Linked DNA regions of Homo sapiens: region 2 is linked to region 1. The links come from fine-mapping of genetic effects on gene expression. Tissue or cell type: whole blood. Region 1 holds a variant in brackets; the other region holds the start of a gene. All regions are shown on one strand. Distances are between the middles of the regions.

What was found. PIP is the estimated chance that this variant, and not a neighbour inherited with it, causes the effect.
Region 2: RHBDD1 starts here. The variant in region 1 is fine-mapped to the expression of RHBDD1 in whole blood (TOPMed, PIP above 0.99).

The regions. Positions count from the first base shown.
Region 1 is chr2:227,000,086-227,002,927 of GRCh38, forward strand. COL4A4 (collagen type IV alpha 4 chain) reads right to left here. Exons shown (of 48, transcript NM_000092.5): 48 at 2,629-2,842. Among named protein-coding and RNA genes, the nearest start is that of COL4A4, 160 kb to the right of the region's middle. The variant G/A (reference allele first, on the strand shown) is at 1,705.
Region 2 is chr2:226,834,874-226,837,373 of GRCh38, forward strand. RHBDD1 (rhomboid domain containing 1) reads left to right here and starts at 1,181. Exons shown (of 9, transcript NM_001167608.3): 1 at 1,181-1,214. RefSeq lists enhancers at 500-794, 634-703, 1,544-1,693 and a silencer at 964-1,493.

The DNA of each region.
Region 1 (2,842 bases):
TCCCTCAACAATTTAAATCTATCTTGCATATCCTTAGTAGCAGATAATTATTAATGGAATTGAACAAGGTCTTCAGACTCTCGTTATAGAGGAGCACCAAGGCCAACCTCTCTGCTCTTCAGGGTGTGCACCCAGGGCCCACAGCACCTGGAAGCTTCTACAGATTCAGACTCCTGCTCCCCAGACCAAATGATCAGAATCTACATTTTAACAGGTCCCCTGTGGTTTATAGGCACCAAAGTACTTCTCAAATTTCAGTGCGCACAAGTGCATTTTACACCATTTATTGCATGTAAAGCAGACTGACTGCTTGGGGACCAGAAGAACATCTTACTCCTCATTATACAATTTTCCCTACTTTTATCAAACATAAAAATGATTACAGGTTGAGAATTTCATCTGTGGCTGATAAAATTATAACCACTAAGTATATAATCACTGAGGATGCAAGCTACCCCCTAGAGATAATGTATGAAGGAATTGCCTTGCTGGCAAATGGGAGAACAAAAATGACTAAGTTGGCTGGTGCTGCAGTGACTGAGCATCAAGTAAGGGCCTTCAGATCCTCCTTTCTCCAGCTCAGAGCAGTTGCCCTAAATGACTGACCTTGGGTTTCTAGGGGCTCCAGAGGTAATATGGTTTGGCTGTGTCCCCACCCAAATCTCATCTTGAATTCCCACGTGTCATGGGAGGGGACTCGGTGGGAGGTCTCATGGAATCATGGGGGAACGTCTTTCCCATGCTGTTCTTGTGATAGTGAATATGTCTCACGAGATCTGATGGTTTTGAAAAGGGGAGCTTCCCTGCACAAGCTCTCTTCTCTTGTCAGCCACCATGTGAGACGTGCCTTTCACCTTCGCCATGATTGTGAGGCCTCCCCAGGCACGTGGAATTGTAAGTCCAATAAACCTCTTTCTTTTGTAAATTGCCCAGTCTCAGGTATGAAAATTTATCAGCAGCATGAAAATGGACTAATACAGGAGACACGGCTGGTTTTCATTTCTTTTCTTTTTTCTTTTTTTTTTTTGAGACAGAGTCTCGCTCTGTTGCCCAGGCTGGAGTGCAGTGGTACGATCTTAGCTCACTGCAAACTCCACCTCCCAGGTTGATGCCATTCTCCTGCCTCAGCCTCCCAAGTAGCTGGGACTACAGGTGCCCACCACCTGGCCCAGCTAATTTTTTGTATTTTTAGTAGAGATGGGGTTTCACATGTTAGCCAGGATGGTCTTGATCTCCTGACCTCATGATCCGCCCACCTTGGACATGGCTGGTTTTCAGTTGACCCTGAGATAAAGGCCTGTGGGATTCCCCCAAAATAGCTCTGTCCTCATGGGTTCCTCACCCCCTCCCTCCAGAACAGCTTGAGACAGTCTCCAAGCTGAGCTGGATGGGCTACCTTAGAACCCGTAAAACAAGGGGCTTTGCAGTGACAGGAGCAATCCAGGACACCTCTATGTGAGACCCTCTATTTTCTAACCAATTCACGAATGGGGAAAGCCGCTGGGAGGTAATGGAGTAAAGGATAAAAGTATTATCTTTAGAACAGACAGACGAGGGTTTGGATTCTACTAGATGGTGACTGTATGACCTTAAAGTAGTTATTCTCTCTAAAGCTCAGTTTCCTTGTCTGCAAAATAGGACAGCTGTAGGGTTGAGAGGAAGCATATATAGCAGAGCCAATACTGCTGCTGTGACATAGTAGAC[G/A]GTCAGGGAATGTTTGTTAGTTGAGTACCCTTATTTCTCTATCAGGTAAAAGGTTGGCCCAAATACCAATGAAGTTCCTTCCTACTTAAAAGTAAGTCCAAGGCTGGGTGCAGTGGCTCATGCCTGTAATCCCAATGCTTTGGAAGGCTGAGGCAGGAGGATGATTTGAAGCCAAGAGTTTAAGACGAGCCTGGGCAGCAGAGCAGGACCCTGCTTCTATAAAAATTAAAAATTAACCAGGCACAGTAGCACATGCTTGTAGCCCACCTACTGGGGAGGGTGAGGCAGGAGGATCATTCGAGCCTGCGAGTTCAAGGCTCCAGTGAGCCATGATTGTACCACTGAACTCCAGCCTGGGCAACAGGCAAGACCCTGTCTCAAAAAAAAAAAAAAAAAAAAAAAGGCCACAAAGCAGTTATTGAATATCTGCACTCCACCTACCCCCATGTTGTTTGGCTATAAAGAGAAATGTAATCAATACCTAACTAACTCCTGACTTCAAGTCACAGTGGTTAAAAGTAACAATATCTTTGGTTTCATAAATCTCTTTGTAGTTAACTTTCACACCTTGAATCCTCCCAACAATGCTGTGAAGCAAATGGTCTTATTCTCACTCAACTAATGAGACAGCTGAGGCCAAGAGGGTGTAAGCCCCATGCCCACTGACCACTGCCCAAGCAGCTCCCGTGGGGTTGATACAGACCTTCCCCCTGAGGCCTGCTTTCATTTCTCTTCTGCGCGCCATCACTGTGCATAGAACAGTGTTTCCAAGAGCCTCTGAATCTCATCCTTTCCAGCCTACACTCTTCCCTTCTGCAGTTCACACTTCCACAAGTGTGAGCCACATTACAATGTAAGCTAGAAGAAAAAAGTAAACCCGCATTGGCTTGAAAGAAAATAAATGCACCAGATAAAACACAGTTGTTTTTGGAAGTCATCACAGAATTTTATATATAATGAACCATATTATAAATCGTAATACAACAAATATTTAAGTGCCAATGGCAGACCAGGCATCTTGCAAAAGTTACATGCTGAAAGTCTTTAACTTTACAACCAGAGGTTAGAGAAAGGGATGCAATTTATTAGACACATTTCACATTTTTCCCATGAATCATTAAATATTTAAGCACCATAA
Region 2 (2,500 bases), 170 kb before region 1:
TCAAGGATTCCCCTGCCTCAGCCTCCCGAGTAGCCGGGATTACAGGCGCCCGCAACCATGCCTGGCTAATTTTTGTATTTTTAGTAGAGACAGGGTTTCGCCATGTTGGCCAGGCTGGTTTTGAATTCCTGACCTCCGGTGATCCGCCCGCCTTAGCCTCCCAAAGTGCTGGGATTACAGGCGTGGGCCACCGCGCCAGGCCTGTTGTTGTTTTTTAAATAGAGACAAGGTCTCACTATGTTGTCCAGGCTGGTCTCAAACTCCTGAGCTCAAGCGATCCTCCTGCCTCGACCTCCCAAAGTGCGGGGATTACAGGCGTGAGTTACCGCGCCCGGCTGTAAGATAGTTTTTTCATATCCTATTAAATATATATAGCATTGCAACATTTAACTTAGCCTAACTCCTACAGCTAAACATAAAACTTGCTCCCGAGTAGCAAACAATTAAAATGGTATCAAATTATGTATTAATCGAAATTCTATTAACTGAAATATGAAACACCTAAAGCCCTCAAAATGGGCAAACGTTGCGTGGTGCAGTCCCAGACCCAAGCTTCTGGGAGTGAAAGGTGCACCCGCGACCTTGCCTTGCTGGCTGGCTCTGGGACTCTGCGATAAGCCGCCCTCCGGTTGTCTGCGATAGCTCCTGAAGCAGGAGAGTGTCTTTCCCACCCTCCGCCTAACAGGCGGTATCTGACCCTTCCAGGCAGCAGCTCCCCAGCCTCCGGCTGCGCTGGGGCCCGGAAGGACGAAGCTTCCCGGCAGAGAACCTGGGCAGAGGCGTCCGTTGGGTAGGCGGCCGCGACCCGCTCGCTGCTTCTCCCCTAGTCTTCGGGTCCCTTGAACGCAGGTCGCTTGTTTGCCTTACGCGTAGTCAGCGGCCAGTGGCTATTTATGGCAGTAAGGAATATTATCCACATTTCACATGGAGCTTAGAGGACAGGGCGAGGGTCCACACTCTCCTTACTGCGCTCTGCCGCGGTCCTGCCCCGCTGTGCCCTCGCGGCCCCCTTAGAGCCACTGCCGGCGCACGCGGTCTGCAGACAGCAGAGCGCGGGCGCGCACAACTAAGCATGCGCCGCGGCCGAGCCGTCCGCTTTAAGGCCCTCCCCTCCCGCACCCGGCCCCAGGAACCCGGGGCGCCCCGGATCGGGAACGTGCGTGATGACGCACGTGCGCGCGAAGACGTGGGGACGCAGGCGGGTCGTAGAGAGCGTGAGTTTCCGCGTCTGTTTGGTCCGGCTGCTGTCGTTGGTTGTGAGCGGCATCTCTCGCCGTTTCCCCGGGCTGCGGGAGCTGGCGGCCGGGCTGGGGCTGCTGGGCGGAGGTCGGCGCCTCCCGGGGGGCTAGGGCGAGGGAGGCATGGCGGGGCTGGAGGCACAGCCTCCCCGTCCGGGGCAAGTCCGAGAGCGGGGAGGGCGTTTCCTGGGGTAACTCCACCTGGGGTCTTGTCGAAGTTGCCGCATCTCCGCCGGACCGCACGGGAACGACGTGCCCACACTCGGAGGAAGGGGTTGGCGCTGAGCGAGTTTAAAGGGTTCCTTTTGAAAGCAGGAAGTTTGAAGTGACGTTGCATCAGCAACAGAGCATGCAGTTTCAGGTGCTCTCGGGACAGCTTTCAGTTTCTCAGAACAAGTCTAAGCCTCACCGCAGTAATAACTTTTATTAGAGGACAAAAAATCCGCCAAAGTAAACCCTTTCTGTCCAACCCCTAAAAACCTTTGGATAAACGTTTACAAGAAACGGATCACAGCCTTATTTGTTTTTCTAAACTGAGCATAAACTCTTTTGAAGACTCAGCGTTACTGTCAAAATGAATGAGTGCCTGCCTAGTTATGATTCAATTATCGAGGTGTTTGGGTCTCTGCAGTACACTCAGTGACTCCCAGGCTTTTCTTTTTTCTCTTTGAAATTGCTTATTAGAAGGCTTTATCTAATTTCTCACAGTTGTGTGTCTTTTTGAGGTAGTTCTAATAAACTTTAAAGGCTTCTGGTTTGCTGCAGGCCTGCCGTCGCTGTGGAAAGCAAGTATTCTTTCAAAGAAGAATAGAAGTGCATTGGTTTCTAAATAATCCCAGGACGCTAGGATCAGCATCACTTGGGAACTTCTTGGAAATGCACATTTTGGGGTCTTATCCCAAACTTACTGAATCAGAAATATATTTTAACAAGCCTTCCAGTTGATACCAATGCACCTGGACGCTAAAGTTTGAGAATTAATGGCGTAGTGATAACACCCATTGTGGAATCACATATAATGGAATTTGAATTGAAGTAATTCCTAGATGGAAAAACTTGGACATGTTACCTCACAGGGCTGGAATATGAAGATGCAAGAAAAATGTTTAACACAAAACACATAGAAAACCCTCAAAGATGTTATTAAGTAACTTATTAGAACTGCATAAAATAAGTACATAGTTTGTGCTGGAAGGATTCTTCAGCGGGGTAGATATGAGCTGTAGCGCATGGATATTGGGACTGCTGCTTAGAGGGTATTT